2 separate regions of the Homo sapiens genome follow, and region 2 is linked to region 1. The links come from fine-mapping of genetic effects on gene expression. A gene starts in region 1. The other region holds a variant in brackets. All regions are shown on one strand. Distances are between the middles of the regions.

Region 1 (15,964 bases):
CCAGGAGATCTGAGCCAGAACCCTGCCCCAGTGCGAAGTGACCTCCTAGTGTGGGCCACTGTGCATTGGAGCTGCCCCTTGCCAGACAGAGTAGAGCAGGAGAGTATGAAATTAAACCTAGGGGAGTCTGGTACGAGCAGGCAGGGGCTGAGGGGCAGCCAGTTTGCCCGCCCTCCTTGCCTGGAGGCCCTTTAGCACTCCTTGTGCTCCCAAGGCTCTGAGATGAGACAGATCTTCTGAGGTGCTGAGATGATCTCTGTAGGGGACATGGGCTGTCTTAGGTTCTTAAGGCACTTGCCTCTCTTGGCACCTGCTTCCCTTGGCTGCCCCTCCAGGGAGATGGGGAAGGGTCTCAACATTTGGGACTATTGACTCCAATTTGCTTTAGCCCCATTTTGCAATGCTAGGGGCTCAGTTTCCCTCCTTTGTGGCCAGGCCTGTCCCCAACTGTAGCTTACTGGAGGGCGGGTCTGCTCTGCCTTCTGGACTTCCTGTTTGTGAGTGGTTAAGTCTGTGGCTTCTCTCTTGTTGGCTCTTTGTAAGGCAGGTTATCTGGGCTGCCATCTCCCACTGGCTGCTTGCCTGCCTGTGAGTGAGGGCCCCAGGCCCATGCAGATGGCAGGGAAGGGTTGGTTTTCTTTTCTGCCTTCATGTGCGGACAATGAGCTTGTGTCATTTCTTCCACCCTCTGGGCCTGCTCTCCTTACAGGCATTAGGCCTTCAAAAGACAATTTTCTCCCTGTTTCTCCTCCTTGCCCAATCTCTCCTTCTAAACCCTCTTCCACCTGTACTCACATTCTCCAGGAAGCCTTCTCTGATGGGACTCCTGTGACTCTAAGGTTGCTACTACAGCATCCAACATCCCAGCCCCTTGGGCCCTGGCAACTGCCACCTGGGATGGCCTTGTGCCTGTTGCCGTTACTATGTTAAATGTAGATGTGTGTGTCTACTTCACCCTCAGATTCAGTGCTCACTAGAAGTAGGAACCAAGTGTCCCCATCAGACCTGAAGCTCTGCCCCTGCTTTGGGTACAAGACACTCACTTGCACTGACACACACACTCGTACACACTGCCTATCAGGCTGGGAGTGCCCAAGGACAGGTCCTGTGTCCTTTTCTCTGCCGGCTCACCTTTGCCTACCCACAGCCTCAGCTTGGCACACAGAGATGGTTGTCCCCCAGGTCGGTAAGGTGGGGGTGGCAGTGAGGGACCATGAGCCTGGAGCCCTCCAGGATTCCAAGCCCAGATCCCTCTATCCTGATGAAGGGCTGTTCCCACCTTGTTCCTGCCGCCCCCGCCCCCTACTTCCTCTGAGCAAGAATCTGAATGTCAGAACCAGGGAGGGCCGTGGGGGACTTTTGACAGCAAGTCCAAGTGAGCCAAGGTTGCCCAGTGACAGCCTGCTTGAACCTGGATCGGCCGCCAAGGAGGCGGAGTTTGAAGTATCAACTTGAACTCCTCTCTCCACAAAGACATCAAGGGTTTGGTTTTTCTCATCCTGGGGAACTCAGGCAACAGGTGGCTTTGGAGGCAGGAGTGGGAGCCAGGCCACTCTCACAGAGGTACTTATGTTCTGAATCCACCCCCAGCTCCTTCCAGTCACCCTGTCAAGCACTGGCCCCAGATTCCCAGGTGACCCTCCCTGTGTCTCTTGGGGAGGACGCAGGTGTGTCCAGGAGTGTAGATAGGCCTCCTCTAGGTGTGTGTACAGGACTGCGGGGTGTGTCGGCGACAGCGTGTCTGTGTCTGAATGTTTTGGGCTCTCTGGGCCGCTGTGTCTGCATGTGTGTTTCCATGCAGGCACTGGCTGCTCTTCCCTCAGGCACCTGCTGGTCAGTCACACAGGCCACGCATCTGGGTGGTGGCAGCCTACGTCAGGCTTCGAGTCCAGCAGCCTTGTTCCAGTCACAGGTGGACGGCCCATTCCATGTATCCTAGCCATTCTCACAAAGTTTCTTATTGTCTCTGTATTCTTATTTTAGACTCTGCCCCTTCCCCTGTCCTTGATTTTGTCTCTGGCCCTGTACCATTTCTTCTGGTTTGAGGCCCAGCAGAGTCGGGAGTCATCGCTGGGCTGGGGAAAGTCCAGGTCCTCATTCCATCCTTCTTTAGCCCCAGCCTCGGGATGGGAACCAGCAGAGGGCCTAGACTATCCAGAAACCCCCTGACCCCAGAAGCTCCGTTGACAGAGAAGCTGGGCCCTAAGCTCTCTTCTCAAAAAAAGAAAATAGATAAATAAAAATAAAAACTATTGGTGGTCTTTAGGCATTGAGGTTGTACAGAGAAAATCAGCCTCTGTTGTCACAAGACAACAGGCAGCAGGGACACCTCACCCTGCTCAGGACAGGAGAAGGGCTAGATTGGAGACTGTTGGAGCCATGTGTGTCCCTTGGAACCTCAGCTCTGACTCGCCACAGGTCACATGCTGAGGGGTCTATGGCATAGCTGGGCCCAGAAGCCGGGCTCCTGGGTCCCATTCTGTGACTCTCTTTTGTGGGGACAGGACGCCTCTGAAGTGAGGGCTATGGAGGCATCATAAGCAGGAGTAGGAGGTAAGATGCTCTCAGGGGAGGAGCCCTGAAGAATGGGGGTCCAGGAACCCAGGTTACTGCACAACTTTGATATTCTTATCCTCTTATCGCCTGGGGCAGCCACTTCCCCTCCACCCAGGTCAGAGGCAGCGGTGGTCTCTTAAAGGAGTATCGCCCCATTTCTGGCCAGCTGGCCCTGCAAGGCAACCCTCCTCACCACTTTCTCTTTAGACTCAAGGGGGTGAAAGGCCCCATTCCCCCTTTCTCTGTCCCATTTTAGGGACCTGGGAATGGGGCAACTTTCCAGGTTGAAGGACCCCCTTCCTGGAGGGAAGGATGTGGGGCCATCTCCCTCCCCACTGCCCCCATGCCAGTCCTCTTCTAGGCCCTGAATCTGACAGCTCCCTAAGGTCTGTGTGGGCCTAAACGGAGGACCCAGAGAAGAGGTCCATGGCCTTCTGGGAAGGAGTCACTGGGTGGTTTTCTCTCTACCGCTCCTACCTCCCCAAACCCATTCCTCTTGCTTCCAGAGCCAAGCCCATGGAGAGGCTTGGAGAACGCTGGGGGAAGATGGTATGGGCTGGGCTCAGCCGACGCTGTCCCCTGCCCACCCCCACACCCTACTCCCCTCCCCCAGCCAGGGGCCCTGGGCTGGGCAGCTTCCTGCCTTCCCCATGGGGAAATCGGGGGTGGCATGCAGGTGGGTGGGCCCCATGCCCACATCCGGTGGCCGCCAGAACCTTCCCTCGAGCCTCTTTCCCGCCACTCCTCCAAGCCCCCTTCTCTCCGCATAGCACCTGTGCCCCACCTTAGGACCTGATCCTCACCCAGCTCTGCCCTGCCCTCTTGTCCCCACAGGTCCCAAAGAGAGCGTGAACACCTAGCCTAGTGCCATCAGTCCACCGGGCCTGAGAGTGTCCCCCGCACTGTGCCCTGCAGGCTGAGGCTGCAGGAGGGGTGGCTTTGTGGGGTGCTGAGGACAACAGTCTCCATGGACGCCCTTCATGCATCAGCACCTCCATGGCCCTCGGGAGCACACGCAGAGGAGCCAGGGCCTGGCCTGAGTGTTGGGAAGGGAAGGGAGTTTTCTGGGCTGAGGTCAGCAGCGGTGGGGCTCAGAGAGAAGGTCCTTTTCTTGTGCTGGAATTCTGGACTCCCCGTTTTGGGCACTCACCGAGGGCCCTGTCGAGGAGCCCTGGTCTTCTGGGGTCACCCTCAATGCCCTGAGTCAGTCCCAGGCTCTTGAGCCATCCCTTGGAGCTGGTGCCACGGGGGGAAGGGCAGCTGGGGCCGGAAGCCACCTGCCCAGGGCATGAGAGAGGGTCCCCAGCCCTCCCGCGGGCCCACCCCCTTCTGTTTCCTGTCAGTCTGTCCTCCCCAGGGAGGGAGGGAGGGAGGGCGCTCATCCCCTGCGGGCGGGGGCGGGGCGCGCTCTGAGACCGTTGGGCGCCCTGAGATCTGGCCCACGTGGCCTCGGGGTTATAAGCCCTGCCCTCCCTGAAGGGAACCCCACTTCGGAGCCTGGAGCACAGGGCGAGCTCTCCTCCGCCCTGCAGCCTCAGGTAAGGATCCGGACCTTCACTGCTGCCCCAACTGGGGCTCCTCAGCTCGGGGCCTCTAGGGGCTTGGGCTGCTGGTCTGGGTGGAGGCGCGTTGGGGGTGTCGAGGAGCTTGGGTGCAAGCCCCATGCGGGAAGCTCAGGGCAAAGCGCCTTGAAACCCTCTCTAGTGAAGGAAGGTAAAATGGCTCCGGGACCCCAGGCGGGGAAAGAGGTGTCCAAGGAGGAGGGCTGGAGAGTAAGGCGGGGATGGCAGAGGGTACGCAGAGGCTGAGAAGTGGGACCAGTGTCTCAAGGGGCGCCAGCCTCTTCCTCCGCCCAACATGGCCACCATTTTTGTTGGGATAGCCTTGGGCTCCTGCCAGGGGAACAGCAGGGCAGTGAGGGAGTCAGGACTTTGGGCTGGTGGGGAGGCCGAGAATCAAGGCTCTGGGGAGTCAGGACTTTGGGGCTGGTGGAGTGGCTGGGGACTGAGGCCCTGGGGGGTCAGGACCTTGGGCTGCTATGGAGGCTGGGACTGAGGCTCTGGGGGAGTCAGGACCTTGAGCTGGTGGGGAGGCTGGGAATTGAGGCCCTGGTGTGTTCAAGACCTTGGGCTGGTGGGGAGGCCAGGGCCTGAGGCCCTGGGGGGTCAGGACCCTGGGCTGTTGGGGAGGCTGGGGACTTAGGCCCTGGGGGGTCAGGATCTTGGGCTGGTGGGGAGGCTGAAGGGTGGGGACTGAGGCTCTGGGCAGTCAGGACCTCACGGTTGGGGTGGACTGGAGACCAAGACCTTGGCAGGGGAGCTGTGGCTGCCTCATTTGGACGCTGGAGGGTGGCTAGCGTGGCTGGAAGCGGCCAGCCAGGGGTTCACAGAACTGAAGGTGAGGCCTCCAGAGGCCCTAGTCTCTACCTGAGTGTCTCTGAAACTGGGGGGATGGGGTGGAGCCTTTAGGGGGAAGGGAAGAGGGAACTGAAGAGGAAGTGGGGGAGGGAGGTAGAGGAGGCAAGTCTGGCGCCATGCTGAGTCACCGCCCACAAGGCCCAGGGCGGGCCCTCGGGGGGCCCTGGCAGGGTTGGGGGGATCTTAGGAAGCCACAAGGAGGGCTGGGGGGCTCTTGGAGCAGGAGTCAGGAGGCCTGGGCAGCCTGAAGAGTACACGCCGACGGACAGACAGACAGTGCAGTCACCCATAAAGTAGAAAGCACTACTAACAGCACTGGAGGGTGTAGTGTTTCCTACTTTATGGATGAGTGTACTGTGGGCTTCGGAGATCACGCCACTGCTGCCGCCCGCTGCCCGCCACCATCTTCCTCGGCGCTCGGGGACCTCGTGTGACAGGTGAGCACCTTACGGCCCCTCCCTACCCTGCCCAGATGCCTGAAAGGCCTCCATGGCTTTCCTGCCCTTCCTGGTTCCGGACAGCTGGGGAAAGGCCACAGCAGCTCCTCTGCTGCCCTGCAGTCTTTGGGGGCGGGGAGGGCTGGACATGTGGAACCCTGATGCAGCCGCAGCGTCAAGGACGAGGAAGGGGTGGGAAGGGATGGTACGTGGAGGGGAATGGGTGGTGGGACCAGGGACCCAATGCTAATAAAGACTGGACTGTGCTTCTCTTTTGTCTGAGACTCTGTTGCTGGGGTGGGGAGCTGAATGCGGGCGGCAGGCACATGGACAGTATGGGCGCACAGAAGGGCTGGGAGGGAGAACCTCTGTCGCTCCTCCAGAAGATACGGGTTTGGCCCTGCCTATGAGATCAGAAGAGGGCTCTGGGCCTGGCCAGGCCACAGCCGGAGGAGAGAAGGGCCTGGGCCATCTGCAGAAAGGGGCAGGGATGTAAGGCATCCTCTCACCTTCTACCCTAGCTCTGGCCCTATCCTGCCCCCCTACATACCCAAACTGAAAGCTGCCTACATCCAGTTTTAATCTAAGAAAGTCTAGGGGGTCCTAGGTCATATAAAAATTGGGCAAAATCCACTGTGGCACATACACAGCATCTTAGACAAGGGCACAGACACTCATATACAAAGCACACACTGAGATGCAAATGCATTTACACACAGAGGCCCCATTCAGTGTGCCAGTAACACACACACAGACACATGTGACATGACTGGCATGACACACACAGGGATTACACACACCCAGGGCACATACATATTCAGTAGTACACACATGCAATGATAGAAACATAGGGCGTGTCTTACACATAGAAGAGCACACACATACAGTGACATTTGCATAATAAACACGGTGGCTCCATACACATACATAGATAGAGACATGTTCATATATCATGATAAATATAGAATACATAGATACATGGTGATATATATATATAAATCAAACCATGTCATTATGCATATTTACATGACGATATGAGCATGTCATATATTGTGTAATCAATTACTACATTGTGCCATATAGTAGCATCCATATCTATATATATCATGATGTGTTGTAATTTATAAACTCATGCAATGATAGCCTCCCATGCACATAACAGCACACACATAGACACAGTGGCAAACAAACATAGATGCAATGACACAGAAACATACATACAGATACACCCAATGTGTTTTTGTTACGTTTTATTATGTGACTCATAGACACATAATAGCACACACATATATACACACAATGGCCCCTTCACATATACAGAAATAGATAATGTCTATTCTATAGATGCATACTATACACACGCATGCGCATAATGGCATGCATATATACTCTGACCTAAACAGCAACACATCATGCAGTGGCGTGCGTGTTGACCTACACACTGCTTTAGGGAAGTGAAGATGTCCACTCCTCCCCATGCACCCCCTACCTCCAGTTCCATTGGCTCTTGCCTGGGTGGAGCCCACAGTCAGGGGCTCTAGGGTTCAGTATCACCGCTGCTATTCTGTGGGGGTGCCACACGAGGGCCCCCGACCTTGGCTGAAACTGGCTTGCCTAATGAGTCCCGGGTTCAGAGTGGAGAGGGGCTGCCTCTCGGGGCTTCTCCCAACACCCCTGGCTCTGGGGACTCTGTCTAGACCCCTGCCACTGCATATAGACTGACTCCTGGCTGAGGGGATTCTCACGTCCTTGTCCCCCAAATTATTTAGCAACAAGATCTAAGGCTAGACAGAAGATGAACTTCCAGGCAATTCGGGACAAAGCCAACCCAACAGGCCATGTGGGCTTCCCTGGTGGCCTGGGACAGCCAGGTTGCCCCCCAAGTGCAATCTGCCAGGAGGAAGCAGAAGGAATTCTCCGTCTATTTCTACCTGTCTCTTTGCTTGTCTTCCCGGTTTCTTTCTCTTGGTTTCTGTCTCTCTCTTTGTTTCATCTCAAGTCCCATCTTTTCTAGTTCTGCCCTTCTCTGTGGCTGGATCTCTGTCATACCCTCCCCCGTTCTGTCTCTATCAGTCTCACCCGATGTAGGGAGGACCATCTGCACCCCACTCGCCTCTGTACTCCGGAAGGTGTGAGAATGTGTGAAGATGAGGGTGGGAGGCCACATGTGGGAGCCCTGGGCTGACATGCCGTGAGAAACCTGCTCTTCCTTCTGTCCCCGACCCTGTCAGCCGGTTCAGCCCACCAGTCCAGCGCCATCACCATGGAAACCAGCAGCCGACTTCCTATTGGTGGGTGGGAGGGGAGGAGGAGGAGGAGGAGGGGAGGGCTGGCTCTTCCCGGCTCACCCCCCCACCCAATTCTGAGGCTCAGCCCTCCTCGGAGCCCACCATCTCGAGGCTCCTGGACTGTAAGGGACCCCTGCAGTCCCCAGAGCAGAGGCCAGCAGGGGCTGAGACTATGAGGCAAGCAGCCCATCGACCCAGGCCTCCTTAGGACCAGCCCAGCCACCCAGCAAGCGAAAGAGCAGCAGCAGAGAGCAGAGCCGGAGATAAAGGACCACAGCGGACCACTGGGGATCACCCCCAGCAGCTCCTGAAGCCTCTGGCCGGGCTGAGGGGTTGCGACAGACGGCCAGACCCACAGACACTGACAGACACACAACGACACCGATGCACACAGCTGCACGACACTGACACACTCAGATACAACCAGGGACAGCATCACATACTGCCACAGCCCTGCAATACAGACACCCACACACACACACACAAACAACTGGCAACTCTGAAATGGGCAGACAGTGACACACAGCACCACCCCCCTCAACACACAGAAGTGGGGGCACCCATCTTCCCAACACATGAGACAGCATTGACCTGCACGGACAGACCTGGAGACACACACACGCACCCTCACCCAGGCGCAGCTGTCGGTGGCCTCTGCACATCCTCCCTACCCCCACAGGGACACCCTCGCTCCTCCACATACTCGCGCACACACACAGCTACCAGCAAACATAGCTCACATACCCCTGGCTCCAGCTCCAGCAGCCCTGGCGCCTTCTGCAGCCTCCTTTGTGGGTGGGGAAGAGCTCAGCCAACCTTGGATGGAGCGTCGGTGAAGCAAGAGCTCAGAGGGGAGAGGGGCTGGCCTGGCATGACCCTCGCCAGTCCCCCCACCTGGCTGGGTGATGTCCCCCGGCCCGGGTTCTGGGGCCCCTTGGCAGTACCATGGAGCAACTGACAACCCTCCCACGGCCTGGGGACCCTGGAGCCATGGAGCCATGGGCACTGCCCACCTGGCATAGCTGGACTCCAGGTCGAGGGGGTGAACCTAGCAGTGCAGCCCCAAGCATCGCTGATACTCCTCCGGCAGCTCTGCAGCTTCAAGAACTGAGGTCTGAGGAGAGTTCCAAGCCCAAAGGAGACGGGAGCTCCAGGCCCGTGGGGGGAACTGACCCTGAAGGAGCAGAGGCTTGTCTGCCCAGCCTGGGCCAGCAAGCATCCAGCTCTGGACCCGCCTGCCAGAGGCCAGAGGATGAGGAAGTGGAGGCTTTCCTGAAGGTAAGGGATCTGTGGAGGGCTGGGGTCTGCAAGGTGGGGGTCTCTCACCATGTCCTCCAGCCTGGCCAGGAGGTGAGGCGAGGTATGCATCCCCAATGCCCACCTGTCCTCTCTTGGCCTGTCTGTGGGTCCATCTCTGTGGCTATCTGTCCTCTCTTCATCGAGCAGAAATCTGAGGGGCTCCATTTCTTTCGTCATTTGTCTGTCCTTCTGACCCTCTTTGCCTGTCTGTCTAGATCTGGCCCTGCTGCTGCCCCGTCCCTCTCTGTGCCTCCTCCTGACAGTGTGTCTGTCTGTGTCTCTTCTTCCATGAGTCTGTCTGTCCTTAGGGGCTGGGGGATACAGGGGGAGTGTGGAGGTGCACAGAGAATCAGTGCAGAGGAAGTAGATTGAGGGGAGGGGGCTTGGTGCTGGGCTGAGGCAGGGTTGGGGTGGGTGTGAGCAGGCTCCTGTAGAAGAGGGAAGGAACAGGACTTTGGGGGAGGGCAGGGGAGTCTGGAGGGATGGGAGTGGGAGCTCGAGCTCGCATGTCCCTGGAGGAGAAGATGGGTAGGAATGGGAAGGATCAGGGAGGAGCAGGAGGGTGCCAGGTTTGGGGGTGTCTATGTGGACAGGGAGGACTGGACAGTTCCTTCTCCTAGGCCTCCTCTGCTCCTCTCTGAAGGCCTGGGACATAGGGGAAACCGTTTCATCTCCATGTCTCCTTGGACCATGGATGGTGGATGCTTCCACAGGGAAGGCTCTGGCTGGGTGACGTGGGTTTCTGAGGTGCTGTCCTCGGTCCTTTCCCATGCCAGGCCAAGCTGAATATGAGCTTTGGGGACAGGCCCAATCTGGAGCTGCTGAGGGCCCTGGGGGAGCTGCGGCAGCGCTGTGCCATCCTTAAGGAGGAAAACCAGATGCTGGTGAGGCTTGGAGACTGGGGTGCTGCGTTCTGGCTGGAGCCAGGCCCTCTGCCTCAGTGCCCTCCTCACCCCATGAACATCTTTCCAAGTGGGGGCTCAATGGAGGTGACAAAATCCTGAGACCCAGAGAGGGTGAACCCCTGCCTAGAGTTGCCAAGGACCCCACTGTGAGCCTAGGGCTCTAGCCCAAGACTTGGGCTGTTAGGACTGGGTCTGTGGGGTGCTCCCTACATGCCCCAATTCTGCCTGACCCCTTGTCAGAGGAAGAGCAGCTTCCCTGAGACAGAAGAGAAGGTGCGGAGGCTGAAGAGGAAGAACGCCGAGCTGGCGGTCATTGCCAAGCGCCTGGAGGAGAGGGCCCGAAAGCTGCAGGAAACGAACCTGAGGGTGGTGAGGAAAGGAGGCTGCTGGGCGGAGGCTGGGTGACCAAGGAAGAGGGGAGCCAGGGCTGGGCCTGAGGGCTGTCTGAAGCTTGGGAGTCACGGTCTCAGCTCAGCACCTAGGAAAGCAAGAATCTAGGGGCTAAGGTGCAGGAAGGGCAGAGGCTGGCCAGGCAAGGAGGCCAAAGGTTTCTGGAGCTGCAGGGGGCAGAGAAGAGCTGGATGGGGAGGTTCCTGAGCAGGCAGGGAGCAGGATTCTGGATTACCACGTGCTGGTGCTGGCGGCAGCCTTCTGCTGAGCTCATCTCAGGGTATAGAGCTGGAGTGGGGGCAGGGATGAGACCCATCACAGTGGCAGCCCCAAATTAGCAGCATCCTTTGATCCTAAACTCAGATGTAGAGTTAATCCTTTCCAACTGCTGGGATGGGGTAGAGTGAGGCTGCTGGTTTTCTGAGACCCCAGTCAAGGTGGAAGCAGGTGGCTACCCCCCTAGGTTTTCATGCTAACTCCTCCTTTGGGAGGAGATGAGGAGTGGGAGAAGTGCCCCAGCCCTCAGGTGACCATTGGCCTTACCCCTCCTCTGGCTAGGTGAGTGCCCCCTTGCCCCGGCCGGGGACCAGCTTGGAGTTGTGTCGGAAGGCCCTAGCCCGCCAGCGAGCCCGGGACCTCAGTGAGACAGCCAGTGCACTGCTGGCCAAGGACAAGCAGATTGCTGCCTTGCAGCGGGAGTGCAGGGAGCTGCAGGCCAGGCTCACTCTGGTGGGCAAGGTGCGAGGAGGCCCTGGTCACCTCTTCCAGCTCAGCCCTGCACAGGGCCATCTGCCTGTTGTGGGATGCAGACAAGATGTTAATGAGACGCAAATGAAAGGGAGGGTGGAGGTTGCTGGGAGTAGGTTCCCCTGGCAACGGCCCAGGTGGGAGAGGGGAGAAGGGGGTGGAGCCATGAGTCCCAGACCTGGGCATTTCTGTGCTCCAGGCTTGAGGCTGTTTGCCGGTGGGTCTGGCTGTATGCATCCACACATCCCCTGTGTGAAGGGATGTTCACAAGGTATTTAGCACAGTGCTGGGCACATTGAGAGCACCCAAGAAATAAGTTACTGAGAATGACCGCATAGGGGCTCGCGGGAGCATGTGGCCACATACGCATGCACATGTAACCAGGCATGTACCCATGGGAGGGTGTGCACAGTCTCGCGCATCGGAGCCCCTCCAGCAAGGCGAAGGGCTCTGCAGGGGATGGCATGGGGCGGGCAAGGATTAGGCCTGAGTCCCCTCCCTGTCCCTGTCCCCCAACCTCAGGAGGGTCCCCAGTGGCTCCACGTGCGGGACTTCGATCGGCTGCTGCGCGAGTCCCAGCGGGAGGTGCTGCGGCTGCAGAGGCAGATCGCGCTGCGCAACCAGCGGGAGACGCTCCCGCTCCCGCCGTCCTGGCCCCCGGGCCCTGCTCTCCAGGCCAGAGCAGGGGCGCCTGCTCCCGGGGCCCCGGGAGAGGTGAGCGCCGGCGCAAGGGCAGGTGTGTGGGTGCGTGCAGATGGGTGGGGGGAACGACCACCGGGATCTCCCCTGCACCGTGCTCAGAACCCCAAGGACTCAGTGGTGGTGTGCGCACTCCCAGGGGCTGGGGAGCTTTCCCGTCCTGGGCAGGGTCCACCTCCAAGCCTCCCGTGCTCGTACCTGCGCCGTGCCCTCCCCTGGGGGCTCCAGGGTTCCGCCCTCCATAGGCCTGCGCCCAGCGGGGCCTGGCCGGCCGCCCCTGCCGCGCTGCCAGTGGTACGGCCCGGCCGCAAATCCCTGGTTGTCCTGGCAGCCGCCCGGGGCCCAGCCCGCGCCGCCTCCTCCCGCCGCCGCCGTAGAGCGGGGACGCCCCCGTCAGCGCCCGCCTGGCTGGCCAGGCCTGGCCCCAGCTACCCGGGGGCGGCGGTGCGTCCGCCCCGGCTCCAGGTACAGGCAACCCTCACTGAGCGGGGGGCTTAGGCAGCCCCTGTCTCGAGGGCCAGGGACCCGCTTAGGACCCCCAGAACTTAAGGGTCTGGCTTCTCGCCATCATCCTAGGTAGGCAGCAAGTAGGTCCTCCTCCTTCTGGGAAGAGGGCTGGGAGGAGAGACCAGGCAGTGATCTGATAGTGACCAAGACCTCCGGGTGGGGGGAGGCTTCTTGCTCAGATTTTGTCTCCCTGGCTGGCCCTGGAAGGGAGATGCACCCTCCCATCAAGACCTGTCCTCCCCCAAAGTTTGCACGGATAATCGGAAGGTGTGGTAGGGTGGGCTTGGGGGAAGCCAGGAGAAGGGTCTGGCTGGACTTGCGCTGCTCTAGGCCAAGCCCAGATTTGGATGATACAGAACCCCTATCTTGGGGAACACCACATCCCCGGGGGCCCAGGCAGCCTCCTAGTTCTCTGCCAGTCGCTGAAGGACACCCAGGACAGTTATTGAGTGCAGAGCAGGGCTGCTGCTGGAAGCTAAAAAGGGAAAGCTTTGGCCTGGATAAAGGACCCATCTCCCAGGGCACACGTGGGTCCCAGGATCTCAAAGCACTTATGGCTCCAGGACACAGGGGTGCAGCCTTTGTACTTACACATCAGCTGGAGACAATGGGAGGTGGGTGGGCAGACAGTACCCCTCTTTGCTCTTGCTAGGCAGGGATCTCTTGCTGGCTGAATGATGGGGTGGGAACCTGCTCTGGGCAGGCTGGGCTGGGGCAGGCTGCCCTGGGGCCCTGTTCTCAGGTGCCAGCCCCTTGCCCCTGGGCATTTCCAGGCCACGCCCCAGGAGGATGCGGACAACCTACCCGTGATTCTAGGGGAGCCAGAGAAAGAGCAGAGGGTGCAGCAGCTGGTAAGTCCTAGGTCAAGGGCTGGAGGCAGCCTGCTGTGGGCAGATGTACCTTCCCTCATGAGGAGCACTTGGTTCTGACCCCTCAGGAATCGGAGCTCAGCAAGAAGCGGAAGAAATGCGAGAGCCTGGAGCAGGAAGCCCGGAAAAAGCAGAGGCGATGTGAGGAGCTGGTGAGCTCTTGAGGGCAACCCAGAGGCCAGCTCCTCCCTTCACCCCGGCCAGCCAGGTGGTGGGCTCCCTCTCAGCTCTGCTCCCACCCCTGCTGCCCTCAAGAACACATTTTCCCTCCTGCTCCTTTCCTTTCCTGGCTGGTGCAGGTTCCAGCAGGGGAGGAAGGCCTTGCCTGGGAGGAGGGCAGGGTCCTCTGTGTGGGGAGAGGGGGAATGTGGGTGCTGGGCTCCCTCCTGAGAGCTCCTCTGCCCGCTCAGGAACTGCAGCTGAGACAAGCGCAGAATGAGAATGCCCGCCTGGTGGAGGAGAACTCCCGGCTCAGTGGGAGAGCCACAGAGAAGGAGCAGGTACCACTTCCGCCCAGGTGCTGTGGAGACCTGTGCTCCCACCACTGCCCCGGTCCCCAGCCAAGGGGCTTTCTCCTCCACCCCTGAGCAGGGGTAGGGTACTGTTCCCCCTGTGAGGGTGCTGGTGGGTCAAGGCTCACCCACCCAACTCCCTGTCACTGCCCCCTCGCCAGGTGGAGTGGGAGAATGCGGAGCTGAGGGGCCAGCTCCTGGGGGTGACACAGGAGAGGGACTCAGCCCTTCGCAAGAGCCAGGGCCTGCAGAGCAAGCTGGAGAGCCTGGAGCAAGTGCTGAAGGTGAGGAGATGGTGCAGGTGGGAGAGGGTGCTGGGCCCTGGCATGGGGAGCAAGTGGGACAGCAGAATATTCTTAGTGAGGGGCACTAGCTCTGAGGCCTGGGCCTGGAGCTGCTCCAGGCTCAGTTTCCTTTGTAATAGAGGAATCTGGAGCAAATGGTGTTTGAGGCTTCCTCATCTTAGATCTTCTCTAGAAATGGCCAAGTAGGGGCTCTGGCCTTGACTCAGATCTTGTGTTTCAGCACATGCGGGAGGTGGCCCAGCGGCGGCAGCAGCTGGAGGTGGAGCATGAACAGGCTCGGCTCAGCCTACGGGAGAAGCAGGAGGAGGTCCGGAGACTGCAGCAGGTGGGGCGGCAGTGAGGGAAGCTGGCAGGCTGCTGGACACCAGCTTTGCCACTCACTCATTCCACAAGCATTTACTGTGTGCCCGGCACTGTGCTAGGCGTCGGGGAGACTGTGGGGAACAAAGACCAGGTCCCTGAGCAGTCAGCAAATTAGCATCCAGGAGTGAGCTGATTTCAGACACTGATGAGCACAGTGGTGGAGAAGAACAGGGTGATGTGACAAAGTGACTGGGATGGGGTGAGGAGCCACTTTAGAGGTCATCAGGGAAGGCCTCCCTGAGGAGGTGACAATTGACCTTGCCAGCCAGGAGGTGTAGACATGCACATGCTCTGTGGCAGGGAAGAGCTGAAGAAGCCTGAGACCAATGTGGCTAGAATACAGCAAGGGATGGGCAGCGTGGTGGGAGTAGACAAGAACCCGATCCTGTCGGGCCTTAACGGCCATGGGAAGAGTTTGGGTATTTTGCTCTGTGAGTAGATAGAAGCTCCTGAAAGATCCTAAGTGGGGGAGTGACATGATCTGAGTCATAATTTTACAGGATCACATGGCTGGTATTATGGAGGGTGGACTGTGGGAGCAGGCGTGGAGCAGGGCCTGGGCGGTGGCCTGGGAGGGAGATGGTGGCTGTCTGGACAGAGATGCATGCAGTGGAACGGGAGACAAGTGCCTGGGTTTGAGTTATGTTTTAGAGATAGAACTGACAAGGTTCTGGCCGGGCATGGTGGCTCATGCCTGTCATCCCAGCACTTTGGGAGGCCAAGGTGGGTGGATCAGTTGAGGTCAGGAGTTCGAGGCCAGCCTGGCCAATATGGTGAATCCCCGTCTCTACCAAAAATACAAAAATTAACCTGACATGGTGGCGGGCCCCTGTAGTCCCAGCTACTCAGGAGGCTGAGGCAGGAGAATTGTTTGAACCCGGGAGGCAGAGCTTGCAGTGAGCTGAGATCGTACCATTGCACTCCAGCCTGGGCGACAGAGCGAGACTCCATCTCAAAAAAAAAAAAAAAGAATTGACAAGGATCCCCGTGGGATTCCAGTTGAATCCCTTCTCTGACAGCCATTTGCTGTATAAACCTTGGTGGAGGGTGGGGCTCTTCATACTCCGTGAGGTGAAGGATGAAGGGGCAGCAGATCTGAGAGGTAGGTCATCCCGAGTGCTGAGTTCCATTTGGGCCATGTCTGAGCTGCGCGTTAAACATTCAAGGGGAGCTGTCCACAGGCACTTGGATACATGAGCCTGGGGTTATGGGTAAGTTGGTCTTGGAGATATTTGGAGCCACCAGTGTGTTTAGTTGTATGAGTAGATGGGAGCCCTAGGAAGAGAGTAGACAATATAAACTGGGCCCAGCACTGGGTCCAGGGTAACCCTAACATTCAAAATGGGGGACAGGGAGCAGGCAAAAGAGGCTGAGAAGGAGCATCCAGAGAGGTAGGGGGGAAACTGGGAGGATGGTTGCTCAGGAAAGAGGGGAGCTGACTCAGCCACGCTTCTCCTGGTCCCCTTTGCCTTCTGGTCTAAGGTATGGTTCAGGGTGGGTGTTCAGGAGGGAGAAACCCTTCGGCCTCCCCCTTCCCTATCCCTCTTCCCTCTCTCCCTACCCTTTTCTTTCTCCCGGCTTCTTCCTCCCCTGCCTCTGTCCTTTCTACCCTTCCTCCCTCGCAGCCCTCTCTACTCCACCCCATTCCTTCTCCTTCCCTCCAGTATTTT
Region 2 (13,072 bases), 21 kb before region 1:
CTATTGCTGCCAGCGTCATCTGCCTTACACTAAACTGTCCAGAAATCTTCAAATGTTCTGTTTGTCCACAGAGAGGAAAAATCCAACCTGCTTTGGCCTCAAAGGTTCCTGCACCAGCCAGCCCCCATCTTCCTTCTCAACCTTATTTTCTATTCTCTTCCCTCCCTTCCCCAGGCCCATGCTTTAGCCAAACTGGGTAAACAATTCTTGTAGTTCCTGTAGCCCAGAATATTCTCCTGCCTTCTCTATTCCCATAAATCTAATTCTTACCTATTCCTACAGAATCAGCTCATTTATCCCCACTTCCAGGAAGCTTTTCCTGATTGCTGCACTTGGACCTGGTCTCTCTCCTTCCTTAATGCATCTCTCGTGACTCCTGTCCTGTCCCACTGGCGTAATGGCCATTTGTTTTCATACTTTCTCTCCAAAAAGGTTACCAGGTCCCTGCTTATTCTTTTTGGTCTTCTATTTGGCACGTGGTAGCAGACCAAATTCACAACGAATCCTTAATATTTATTGGGTGAATAAATGAATAGTAAGTATTGGTAACACACTGGTTGCTATATATATTTCTTTAGATTTGTTTTTCTCTCCCCTGTGTCCCAACTGGGGCCCCCTTAGCTTTCAATCTAACCACCCTTTCCAGACAGTCTCTGCTTCTCCCTCCCTGTGGTCCCCTCTCAGCCACACTCTGCTGCAGGCGAGAGAAGCAGGTCCCTGGCCTGACCCTCAATGACCTCTTTCCTCCCCGCTCTCTAAATACAGGCTCAGAGGAGGAACTCGAGGAGCTGTGTGAACAGGCTGTGTGAGATGTTCAGGCCTAGCTCCAACCAAGAGTGTGCTCCAGATGTGTTTGGGCCCTACCTGGCACAGAGTCCTGCTCCTGGGAAAGGAAAGGACCACAGCAAACACCATTCTTTTTGCCGTACTTCCTAGAAGCACTGGAAGAGGACTGGTGATGGTGGAGGGTGAGAGGGTGCCGTTTCCTGCTCCAGCTCCAGACCTTGTCTGCAGAAAACATCTGCAGTGCAGCAAATCCATGTCCAGCCAGGCAACCAGCTGCTGCCTGTGGCGTGTGTGGGCTGGATCCCTTGAAGGCTGAGTTTTTGAGGGCAGAAAGCTAGCTATGGGTAGCCAGGTGTTACAAAGGTGCTGCTCCTTCTCCAACCCCTACTTGGTTTCCCTCACCCCAAGCCTCATGTTCATACCAGCCAGTGGGTTCAGCAGAACGCATGACACCTTATCACCTCCCTCCTTGGGTGAGCTCTGAACACCAGCTTTGGCCCCTCCACAGTAAGGCTGCTACATCAGGGGCAACCCTGGCTCTATCATTTTCCTTTTTTGCCAAAAGGACCAGTAGCATAGGTGAGCCCTGAGCACTAAAAGGAGGGGTCCCTGAAGCTTTCCCACTATAGTGTGGAGTTCTGTCCCTGAGGTGGGTACAGCAGCCTTGGTTCCTCTGGGGGTTGAGAATAAGAATAGTGGGGAGGGAAAAACTCCTCCTTGAAGATTTCCTGTCTCAGAGTCCCAGAGAGGTAGAAAGGAGGAATTTCTGCTGGACTTTATCTGGGCAGAGGAAGGATGGAATGAAGGTAGAAAAGGCAGAATTACAGCTGAGCGGGGACAACAAAGAGTTCTTCTCTGGGAAAAGTTTTGTCTTAGAGCAAGGATGGAAAATGGGGACAACAAAGGAAAAGCAAAGTGTGACCCTTGGGTTTGGACAGCCCAGAGGCCCAGCTCCCCAGTATAAGCCATACAGGCCAGGGACCCACAGGAGAGTGGATTAGAGCACAAGTCTGGCCTCACTGAGTGGACAAGAGCTGATGGGCCTCATCAGGGTGACATTCACCCCAGGGCAGCCTGACCACTCTTGGCCCCTCAGGCATTATCCCATTTGGAATGTGAATGTGGTGGCAAAGTGGGCAGAGGACCCCACCTGGGAACCTTTTTCCCTCAGTTAGTGGGGAGACTAGCACCTAGGTACCCACATGGGTATTTATATCTGAACCAGACAGACGCTTGAATCAGGCACTATGTTAAGAAATATATTTATTTGCTAATATATTTATCCACAAATGTGGTCTGGTCTTGTGGTTTTGTTCTGTCGTGACTGTCACTCAGGGTAACAACGTCATCTCTTTCTACATCAAGAGAAGTAAATTATTTATGTTATCAGAGGCTAGGCTCCGATTCATGAAAGGATAGGGTAGAGTAGAGGGCTTGGCAATAAGAACTGGTTTGTAAGCCCCTAAAAGTGTGGCTTAGTGAGATCAGGGAAGGAGAAAGCATGACTGGATTCTTACTGTGCTTCAGTCATTATTATTATACTGTTCACTTCACACATTATCATACTTCAGTGACTCAGACCTTGGGCAAATACTCTGTGCCTCGCTTTTTCAGTCCATAAAATGGGCCTACTTAATAGTTGTTGCAGGACTTACATGAGATAATAGAGTGTAGAAAATATGTTCCAAAGTGGAAAGTTTTATTCAGTGATAGAAAACATCCAAACCTGTCACAGAGCCCATCTGAACACAGCATGGGACCGCCAACAAGAAGAAAGCCCGCCCGGAAGCAGCTCAATCAGGAGGCTGGGCTGGAATGACAGCGCAGCGGGGCCTGAAACTATTTATATCCCAAAGCTCCTCTCAGATAAACACAAATGACTGCGTTCTGCCTGCACTCGGGCTATTGCGAGGACAGAGAGCTGGTGCTCCATTGGCGTGAAGTCTCCAGGGCCAGAAGGGGCCTTTGTCGCTTCCTCACAAGGCACAAGTTCCCCTTCTGCTTCCCCGAGAAAGGTTTGGTAGGGGTGGTGGTTTAGTGCCTATAGAACAAGGCATTTCGCTTCCTAGACGGTGAAATGAAAGGGAAAAAAAGGACACCTAATCTCCTACAAATGGTCTTTAGTAAAGGAACCGTGTCTAAGCGCTAAGAACTGCGCAAAGTATAAATTATCAGCCGGAACGAGCAAACAGACGGAGTTTTAAAAGATAAATACGCATTTTTTTCCGCCGTAGCTCCCAGGCCAGCATTCCTGTGGGAAGCAAGTGGAAACCCTATAGCGCTCTCGCAGTTAGGAAGGAGGGGTGGGGCTGTCCCTGGATTTCTTCTCGGTCTCTGCAGAGACAATCCAGAGGGAGACAGTGGATTCACTGCCCCCAATGCTTCTAAAACGGGGAGACAAAACAAAAAAAAACAAACTTCGGGTTACCATCGGGGAACAGGACCGACGCCCAGGGCCACCAGCCCAGATCAAACAGCCCGCGTCTCGGCGCTGCGGCTCAGCCCGACACACTCCCGCGCAAGCGCAGCCGCCCCCCCGCCCCGGGGGCCCGCTGACTACCC[C/T]ACACAGCCTCCGCCGCGCCCTCGGCGGGCTCAGGTGGCTGCGACGCGCTCCGGCCCAGGTGGCGGCCGGCCGCCCAGCCTCCCCGCCTGCTGGCGGGAGAAACCATCTCCTCTGGCGGGGGTAGGGGCGGAGCTGGCGTCCGCCCACACCGGAAGAGGAAGTCTAAGCGCCGGAAGTGGTGGGCATTCTGGGTAACGAGCTATTTACTTCCTGCGGGTGCACAGGCTGTGGTCGTCTATCTCCCTGTTGTTCTTCCCATCGGCGAAGATGGCCCTGGAGACGGTGCCGAAGGACCTGCGGCATCTGCGGGCCTGTTTGCTGTGTTCGCTGGTCAAGGTGTCAGTCGGGGACCTGGTTGTAGGGCCCATGGGGGACCAAGGTCGGGGAAAGAGGGCGGAATGGGGCTGTGGGACAGTAAAGAGAAAAGTTAAGTCTCAGAACTCAGAGGTGGCAGGGGGAGTGAGAAGCCGAAGGAGGCCATCGTTTACCTCGTAGGATCGCGGACAGGTCTTGCAGCTGAGGGCAGGGGCGGTCTTACATGCCTTTGAATCCTCAGCTCTTAGACGTTCGGTGAACTTACGTTGGAGCCGAAAGACACTGGGAGTCAGAGGCGGGTGGGGATCCGCTGCTGAGTGAGTAGTCGGAAAGGATGCCTGACCCTGAGTAGACTAGAGAAAGGAATAGATAAAACGGAATTGGGAACGAGAGAGGAAGGAGTGGGAGGGTGGGACTTAGGAATGAAGCTTTGAGAGTAGTAGGTGGGGAACCTTAGGATACACAGTCAACATAGGGAAACAAGAAATTGAGCAGGTCGAAGTATTGAGAAAGCTACTTTTTCTCTTGGTCTTGTTCATGCTTATCTCTCCTTTTCCTTTATTTTTCTTTCACTCCCAGACTATAGACCAGTTTGAATATGATGGTTGTGACAATTGTGATGCATATCTACAAATGAAGGGTAACCGAGAGATGGTATATGACTGCACTAGCTCTTCCTTTGATGGGTAAGCCGCTTCAGTTTCCATCATTCACTTCTGCATTACCCAACCTGCACCCAGAGAAGTAAATGCAGGGCAAGTGTTAATCCTAGTTGGGCCCAGCCATTCGTTTTTGGGGGTTATTTTGTGTGGGTTTTTTTTTTTTTTTTTTTTTTTGAATCAGGGTTTTGCTCTGTGGCTCAGGCTGGAGTGCAGTGGCATGATCATAGCTCACTGCAGCGTGGAATGATCCTCTGACTTCAACCTCCCAGAGTGCTGGGATTATAGGTGTAAGCCACTGTGTCCAGCCTCAACAGTTATTTTGGGACATACTAGTGCTATGCATCTAATACAGTGACCACTATCCACGTGTAGCTACTGAGCACTTGAAATGTGTCTAGTCCAAATTAAGACATGCTTTTAAGTATAAAATATACCCCAGATTTCAAAGACTTAACATGAGAAGAAAGAATGTAATCTTAATAATGTTTGTTAAATGCATGAAAATTTTTTTTGAAAATGAAGGGAAGGGAGGTGTAGTAATGGTAGATCATTGCCCAAAAGCTGTTGCTTTTTTTTTTTTTTTTTTTTTGGACAGACTTTTCGCCCTTGCCACTCATGCTGGAGTGCAATGGTGCAGTCTCGGCTCACTGCAACCTCTGCCTCCTGGGTTCAAGCAATTCTCCTGCCTCAGCCTCTTGAGTAGCTGGGATTACAGGCACCCACCACCACTCCCAGCTAATTTTTATATCTTTAGTAGAGACGGGGTTTCACCATGTTGGCCAGGCTGGTCTCAAACTCCTGACCTCAGGTGATCTGCCCACCTCGGCCTCTCATAGTGCTGGGATTACAAGTATGAGTCACCATGCCCGGCCCATTTTAGCCATTTTACTTATTTATTTATTTATTTATTTATTTGAGATGGAGTCTCGCTCTGTCGCCCAGGCTGGAGTGCAGTGGCGCAATCTCGGCTCACTGCAACCTCCGCCTCCCAGGTTCAAGCAGTTCTCTGCCTCAGCCTCCTGAGTAGCTGGGATTACAGGCACCTGCCACCATACCCAGCTAATTTTTGTATTTTTAGTAGAGACGGGGTTTCACCATGTTGGTCAGACTGGTCTTGAACTGCTGACCTCGTGATCCACCCGCCTCGGCCTCCCAAAGTGCTGGGATTACAGGAGTGAGCCACAGCGCCCGGCTGCAATGGCACGATCTCAGCTCACTGCAACCTCCGCCTCCTACCTCAGCCTCCTGAGTAGCTGGGATTACAGGCGCCCACCACCACGCCCAGCTAATTTTTGTACTTTTTTTAGTAGAGACAGGGTTTTGCCATGCTGGCCAGGCTGGTCTCGAACTCCTGACCTCAGGTGATCCTCCCGTCTCAGCCTCACAAAGTGCTGGGATTACAGGCATGAGCCACTGTGCCCGGTCGCCATTTCTAAATACACAATTCAGTGGCATTAGTGCATACTCACTGTTGTGCAACCGTCACCACCATCCATCTCCAGAACTTTTTTCATCTGTACCCATTAAACACTAGCTCCTCGTTCTCTCCTCCCTCCTGTCCCTGACAACCACCATGCTTTGTCTCTATGAATTTGGCCACCTTAGGCACCCTTAGGTACCTATGGGCTCATTCAGTAGCATTTTTTAGCTTCTTTCACCAACATAATGTCTTCAAGGTTCATTCATATTGTAGTATGCAACAGAATTTCCCTCCTCTTTTGAGCTGAATAATATTCCCTTGTATGTGTATAGCATGTTCTGCTGCCCATTCATTCATCAATGATATCTTGGGTTGTTTCTCCCTTTTGGCTATTTGTGAATAATACTGCTGTGAACATTGGTATACAAATATGTGTTCAAGTCCCTGCTTTTCATTATTTTCAGTACAGATGCACCTCAACTTCCGAGGAGTTACAACCTAATAAGCCCATCATAAGTTGAAAATATAAGCCAAAAGTGCATTTAACACACCCAACCTACTGAATATAATAAGTTAGCCTACTTCAAATGTGCTCAGAACGCTTATGTTACTGTGGCTGACCAGAAGCTGTGGCTCATGGCTGCTGCGCAGCATCATGACAGAATATTGTACTGAATTGCTAGCCTGGAAAAGAACAAAATTTAAAATTTGAAAACGATTTCTATTGAATGCATGTCACTTTTGCAAAATCATAAATTTGAAAAATCATAAGTTGAACTAAGGTAAGTCAGGGATCATCTGTATATCCACAAGTGAAATTGCTAGATCATATGATAGTTCAGTGTTTAATTTTTTGAGGAACTGTCATACTGTTTAGCAACTGCACCATTTTCCATTCCCACCAACAGTGCCCAAAGGTTCTAATTTCTCCCCATCCTCACCAACACTTAATTATTTATTAATAATAGCCATCCTGATGGGTGTGACTTTGGTGTCCCATTTCCCCCAATGAATGGTGATGTTGAGCCTCTTAGGTGCTTATAGCCATTTGTATATCTTTGGAGAAATGCCTATTCAAGGCCTTTGCTCATTTTTGACTTCAGTTTGGTTTTTTTGTTGTTAGGTTGTAGGAATTATTTGTATAATTCTAGTGCATATTAGGTCTTAAAGAGTGGGCAAATTAAAGATCGGAAGAGGGCTAGATGACCTCAACCAGAATTGGAAGAGGTAGTACTTTCCTCTTAAGGCAAGAAGTTTGGGATTTTTGAGGAAGTTGAGGTGAGAGAGAGAGAGAACATTCCAAATAAAGGGAGTGACTAGAGCAAAGGCTTAGGATGGGAAAAACCAGGATGTTTTTGGAGAACAGTGGGAATTCTGTTTAGGTTAAATCATAAGGTTGGGCTGTAGGGACCCTAAGGCTAAAAAGATAGATTGCAAAGGACAGAGAAGAATATACTTGTGGTCAGGAGGATGGCCTGCATACATGCCTATCTCCCATCAGGCTGCAGGGCTGGGGGCTAGTGTTCTGCTTGTCACCCCTGGAGGTAGGGTCGGTTCCACTTAACAGCGCATGGCTGAGAATGTAGGATTTGGATGGGAAGGGAATCTTCTCAAATAAGAATCCAAGATTGTTACTGAGAGAAGAGGGGAGGCATATTGAGGCAGTCAACAAATGTCAGTGCTTACACCCACACAATAGGCAGTCAGTAAGCATTTGATTGAATGCGTTGAATGACAAAAATGCTTACCCATCTTGCTCAAGCAGCATCTTCTAGCCCTTGAATAGCCTTACCATTCCTCTGGAATCACAGCTACCTGGGAAGGACTATTAGGATAATGAGGAGAGCTAATGCTTATTTAGCACCTACTCTGTGCTAGTCTTTGTGCTAGGTGTTTTTCATGTATTATCTCAACCTTTGAGTCTCAGCTTACTGATGAGGTTCTGAGAAGGGAACCCCACATGTATAGGTCATTAGAGGGGTCCCCATATGTATAGGTCATTAAGAGGAAAAGTTTAGCCAAGTTGAACTCCTTTCTAGTAGGAGGATCCGTTGTTTTCACTCACCCTCCTCTTTGCACTAGGCCCTAGACCCCTTGTAGTTGTGTTAGTTGTAACTATTGGACCCCTTGTCCTAAAGCCGTCTCATTTTCTAGGGAATGTTAGGCTAAGGATGTTTGTGAGCTGAGTGAGATAATCTTTTGGGGATGGAAACTGACCTGTGGCTGGCCGGCCAAGGACATAAGAATGAAGAACTTTTGTCAGTCCTAGCTTTGAGTCAGCCTCATCCCAACATCAGAAGGCAGTTTTGCCAGCTTTCCAGTGGAGACTCGGTACTTGGCTTTTTCCTAGATTCCTCTCTCAGAATTGAGCTCAGGCCCAGGGAGGCTCAGGCTGACTCTCCATTTCTTTTCCCTCCCTAGAATCATTGCGATGATGAGTCCAGAGGACAGCTGGGTCTCCAAGTGGCAGCGAGTCAGTAAGTGTTGGCCTGTCTCCTTTTGGCTTAGTTGTAGTGTTGTTACTGTTCCTCAGGTCCATTAGGGAGTCTCAAATCAGCAAGATGAGTGACCTCAGGGTGGGAAAGATCGGGTTGTAGGAAACACAGGGAAGCAGTGTCCTGTGCCTTGTCATTTAACACTTGTAGCCAAAAGAGGGAATAGCTCTTCTCTTGGAGTTGCATCACTTCTTTAGCTTAAGCTTCCATTTGATCTTGAGTCTTAACTAACTTCACTGTAATCTTGTATCTTTTTTCTTCTCTCTCAGGTAACTTTAAGCCAGGTGTATATGCGGTGTCAGTCACTGGTCGCCTGCCCCAAGGTAATAATAATCATAACAGCCAATGTTCATTTACTGTAAAGCTCTGTGGAAGTTTTTTTATCTGAATTAATGCCAATTCTCACATTCTATGAGGTTCAGCATTTTACAGATGGGGGGAACCAGGCACAGAGAGGTTAAATCACTTGCTGGAGGTCACCAGGTAGTAAATGAGGAGCCAGGATTGGAATCCAGGCATTCTGGCTCCAGAATTTTTGCTGTTTCTGTTTTTTATTTTTTTTAGAGACAAGGTCTCACTATGTTGCCCAGGCTGGACTCTAACTCCTGGGCTCATGTGCTCCTCCCACCTCTGCCTCCTGAGTAGCTGGGACTACAGGTGCTTGGCTTAGAACCTTTGCTTTTGATGACTACATGTATCCCTCTTTTTCTTCTCATTCTTACCGAATACCTGCCTGGGTCTTCACTAGTAATGAGTCAACTAAGCAGGACCTTTTTTTTTTTTTTTTTTTTTGAGACAGAGTCTCTGTCACCCAGGCTGAAGTATAGTGGCATTATCAGAGCTCACTGCAGCCTTGAACTCATGGATTCAAGGGATCCTCCCGCCTCAGCCTCCCAAATAGCTGGCACTACAGGTGCAAGCCACTACACCTGGCTAATTTTTAAAATTTTTTTGTAGAGATGGGGCCTTGCTCTGTAGCCCAGGCTAGTCTTGAACTCCTGACCTCAAGTGATCCACCTTGACCTCCCAAAGTGCTGAGATTGCAGGCATGAGCCACCGTGCCTGGCCAAGCAGACGATTGATAAGTAGTCTAGGAACTCCAGTTTGCTTATAGTACCCCCCTCAAGGTGGCAGCTGAGTGGCCTATCTTACCCTTCTGAATCTTACCTCACAGAACTGTTTCTTTTCCTGCTTCAGGAATCGTGCGGGAGCTGAAAAGTCGAGGAGTGGCCTACAAATCCAGAGACACAGCTATAAAGACCTAGCAAGATGCAAGGCTGCCAGCATCTTTGCTCTCCACCTCCTGCCTCTGCTTATTTCTTGTTCTGGAACTAAATGAACAGAACTTCAAATACTTCCTACCCTCCAATTCAGACTCAGCTGACTGTTGAGAGAGCAGCACATCATTTTATCATTTTATCTTCTTTGGACTACAGGTGGGGTGGGAGGGATTTGGGTTGGTGGATTAACAGATGGAATTGAGGAGAGAGTAGGATGCTGATTTTCCTACCCGTGGCCCAGGTCTGTGCCTTCCCCATGCCAAGGACTCTAGGTCAAATGTCAATAAATATGAACCTCGAGAAAGTTCTGAAGGCCATGACACCTGCCTTGCCTCCCTCTTCCATTCTCTTAGGCACAGTAATAGCTTATTTGCCCTATAAGAACCTTCCCAGAGCAGCAGAGGCCCTTCTACTCCCTCTTGACTGTCTCAGCCTCTGGGATTGCAGCCTTTGTAGTGTGCTTCCTTGCTTCCTATCGGAGGGTGCTGATCCAGAGGCTCAGTAACCCCATCAACTTGGTGGCCCTGGTGTCTCACACTTGTATCCTTCTGCCCTCGAGACCTGGCACAGCAGTATCCCTTGAAGAAATCCTGAGGCTTTGTAGAGTGCTCCTTGACCATGTTTAATAATTCTTCCCTCCCCTGCTTGTCTATTTTCTTCTCTTCACGGCTCTTCCTATACCTTAGGCCAGTCTCAAGCACTCACTGGAGACCCTTGGGCCTTGGGCGACCATTGAGTCCTAGTCTCCCTTGTTTGTGCCCCTGTAGGAGGTAGGTCCTTTTCTCCTCCGGCCTAGTAGGGGACCTTGGGTAACATCCCATTTTTCGGCCAAGGTGAGTTGTTTTAGGATAAAAAAATTTACCACAAATTCTCATTTAAATTTCCACAGAAATCCTGTTCGTATCCCCATTTTGATTTCCCTAAGTTCCTTGTTCTCCCTCTAAAAAGAGAATGATTGCACCCTGCCTGTTTACCTCAGGATTGTTGTGATTGTAGAAACGAAGCTATGTGAAAATTATATAAGTATTATAAAGGTGAAATACTTTTGCTCTCCTTTTTGGGCCATTTTTCAATACATAGAATATGTGCACAATCAGCCAAAATAGTAGGGGAAATGCTGAGAACCACAACTGCAGGGTGAGCTGTGCTGTGCTAGGGCAGAGCTGCCTGTGCTAGGGCTTTGTGTCTCAGCCACCTGGTGTTGCTCTTGAGTTGATTTTGCTTGTTACCTGTGGCCTGGAGAGTGTGGGAAGGAGGAGAGATGCGACCTGACTCTGATTAGTTTGTCTACTCCCCTTCCTTGTCCTCACATAGGCCTATGGGAGGGAAACTGGGACTGGCCGGGCTGCTCATGTCCACTATGGTCTTCAAACCAAAACCATTTTCTCTGGTGCCTTCAAGCTCTGAGGGAATGGTCAGATAACCCCAACTCCAAACTGAGTTTCTCAAGGATTTCCCCAGCCCAGCAAACAGAAAGCTCCGTGGGTGGTGATTTCTGTTCAATTTCAACCTGAAAGCAACCCTGCCAGGCTAGAGCTTACGTCCTGGATGGAAGAAGTGCGTTTCAGCAAGTGCCCAGGCTGTGCAGCCAACACCCAACTTTCACTAGCTTCTCAAAAAGTCCCTTGGAAAGCCCCAGCTGCTGTCCTGGGTGTCTGACCCGGACGTGGCTGCTTGGTGAGAATGGAAACAGTTGTGGGGAGGGGAGGCAAGAGGAGCTTGCACAAATAACCACATTCAGGCTGCCTCAGCCCTACACTGAACTGGGCCCTAACTGACAGTCTCACAGGAAGCAAAAGACATAGCATAGGCATTGATGCTTGTGGGGGAAGGGTGGCCTGTTTTCCTTCCTGGACTCTACAGACTGTGCCAAGTGGGCTCTCCCCGGGAGCTGCTGCTGAATTAGCTTTCTTGCTTTCTCTGGTACTTGAACATGCAGGTGGTGCCACTCAGCAACCCAGACAGGCAGAAAGGTGCTGGAGTCCCATCCTCTACTGGGAACCCAAAGAAACTAAGACAAGGACTTGGTTCACAGCTCCCTGGGAGTGGGCGGTCCTGGTACTGCTGCCCTGCTTTCCATGGCTATGAGGGCAGCCATGAGAGCTATGTCCTGCCCCATTGGCCCATTGTGTCTGTCAGAGTTTCAGTCCCGTCCTGGCTGCCGAAGTTCTGAGTGCATAGCATCTTAAGATCTCTCCTTGTCTTGCTCAGTAGTTTGGCTTCTCTCCTGAAGAGCAAGCCTCCTCCCTAGCTCAACAAGGACAGATGCAAGTCAGACAGAGACTAGGAATAGTAGCCAGGCTGCCTTCCCCTTGCCTGCCCTTGCCTCATTCCCTGCTTCCTCCCTGCCACATACTGTGGAATTAGGGTCTCCCAGAACACTGAGGAGCTCAGTGGCAGTGCATTGATAATGCAGCCTCCAGCTCAAGAAAGGACTGGTAGCTGATAGAGCAAGGGTCAGGATGGTCTGGTCTTGGAGGGGAGCAGTTTCACCAGGGTTGGGAACTGAGGCTTTGCTCTTGGTGTGGCTTCTGCCTTGTTACTCCTAGTCTGTCTGCAGCCTGCTACTTGATCCTCAGGTCCCCTCCCTGACATCTGGTCTCTATGAAAGAGGCAGGTAGGTCATGTTTAAGAACAGACTAATAATAACTTTGTCTGGAAGTCTGGTTCATGTTTAGTATCAGTAAAGCCTTTCATGTAAATATTTTTACAGTTGACAAAGGTGCTGGGTGCTGTGGCTCATGCCTCTAATCCCAGCACCTTGGGGAGGTCAAAGCGGGCAGATCACTTTGAACCCAGGAGTGTAAGACCAACCTGGGCAACATGGCAAAAGCCCATCTCTACAAAAAATTAGCTAGGCATGGTGGTGTACACCTGTAGTCCCAGCTACTTGGGAGGCTGAGGTGGGAGGATCCCTTGAGTCTGGGAGTTTGAGGCTGCAGTGAGCCGTGATGGCGCCACTGCACTCCAGCCTGGGGGACAGAGTGAGACCGTGTCTCAGAAAACAACAAAACAAACCCAAATACAGTTGACAAAGGGCTTTCATATCCAGTATCTCATTTGATTCTCACAGAAACCCTGGAACTAGTTAACATCCTTATTTGGTGATGAGGAGACTGAGACTCAAAGAGTTAAAGTGTCTTGACTGGGCACGGTGGCTTATGCCTGTAATCCCAGCACTTTGGGAGGCCAAGGTGGGTGGATCATGAGATCAGGAGTTCAAGACCAGCCTGGCCAAGATGGTGAAACCCCGTCTCTACTAAAAATATAAAAAGTTAGCCAGGTGTGGTGGCGGGCGCCTGTAATCCCAGCTACATGGGAGGCTGAGGCAGGAGAAGTGCTTGAACTCGGGAGGCGGAGGTTGCAGTGAGCCAAGATCGTGCCACTGCACTCCAGCTAGGGTGACAGAGCAAGACTCTGTCTCGGGGTGGGGAAGAAAAGAGTTAAAAGTGTTTTAGCCATAATCAAGTAGTGGAGCCTCAGCTCAAGAAATATAATGTCCACACTAAGTTTAGGGCTACTAACTGTTTGTGACATAGTTGTCCACAAAC

Direction of the effects. Positions count from the first base shown, and alleles are read on the strand shown. Sizes are in standard deviations (SD) of each study's normalised expression.
For the expression in unexposed skin of the gene that starts at base 7,769 in region 1, allele C in region 2 goes with a lower level than allele T (small effect, 0.39 SD a copy in GTEx).

Evidence for each region.
Region 2: its variant is fine-mapped to the expression of TSPOAP1 in unexposed skin (GTEx, PIP above 0.99). The same link has a PIP of 0.9 or more in atrial appendage and skeletal muscle.

What each region holds. Positions count from the first base shown.
Region 1 is chr17:58,320,600-58,336,563 of GRCh38, reverse strand. It overlaps TSPOAP1 (TSPO associated protein 1), which reads left to right and starts at 7,769. Exons shown (of 32, transcript NM_004758.4): 1 at 7,769-8,976; 2 at 9,774-9,881; 3 at 10,143-10,271; 4 at 10,851-11,030; 5 at 11,562-11,753; 6 at 13,019-13,096; 7 at 13,183-13,266; 8 at 13,525-13,614; 9 at 13,788-13,910; 10 at 14,152-14,256. The coding sequence starts at 8,644. TSPOAP1-AS1 (TSPOAP1, SUPT4H1 and RNF43 antisense RNA 1) reads right to left here and starts at 11,114. Exons shown (of 5, transcript NR_038410.1): 1 at 10,836-11,114; 2 at 8,443-8,514. MIR142HG (MIR142 host genes) reads left to right here and starts at 4,044. Exons shown (of 1, transcript NR_186557.1): 1 at 4,044-5,676. It overlaps MIR142 (microRNA 142), which reads left to right and starts at 5,246; the gene lies at 5,246-5,332. It also overlaps MIR4736. RefSeq lists enhancers at 4,147-4,216, 5,017-5,156, 6,947-7,026, 7,127-7,296, 7,827-7,896 and 11 more and silencers at 3,727-4,036, 8,607-8,716, 9,327-9,386, 11,647-11,736, 11,777-11,846 and 1 more.
Region 2 is chr17:58,342,680-58,355,751 of GRCh38, reverse strand. SUPT4H1 (SPT4 homolog, DSIF elongation factor subunit) reads left to right here and starts at 3,551. Exons shown (of 5, transcript NM_003168.3): 1 at 3,551-3,685; 2 at 4,244-4,350; 3 at 8,168-8,223; 4 at 8,511-8,564; 5 at 9,439-10,574. The coding sequence starts at 3,617. The coding sequence ends at 9,506. RNF43 (ring finger protein 43) reads left to right here. Exons shown (of 10, transcript NM_017763.6): 10 at 766-2,076. The coding sequence ends at 809. It overlaps TSPOAP1-AS1 (TSPOAP1, SUPT4H1 and RNF43 antisense RNA 1), which reads right to left. Exons shown (of 5, transcript NR_038410.1): 4 at 3,838-4,008; 5 at 2,025-3,753. RefSeq lists enhancers at 2,235-2,770, 11,005-11,534 and silencers at 3,158-3,587, 3,868-3,977. The variant C/T (reference allele first, on the strand shown) is at 3,349.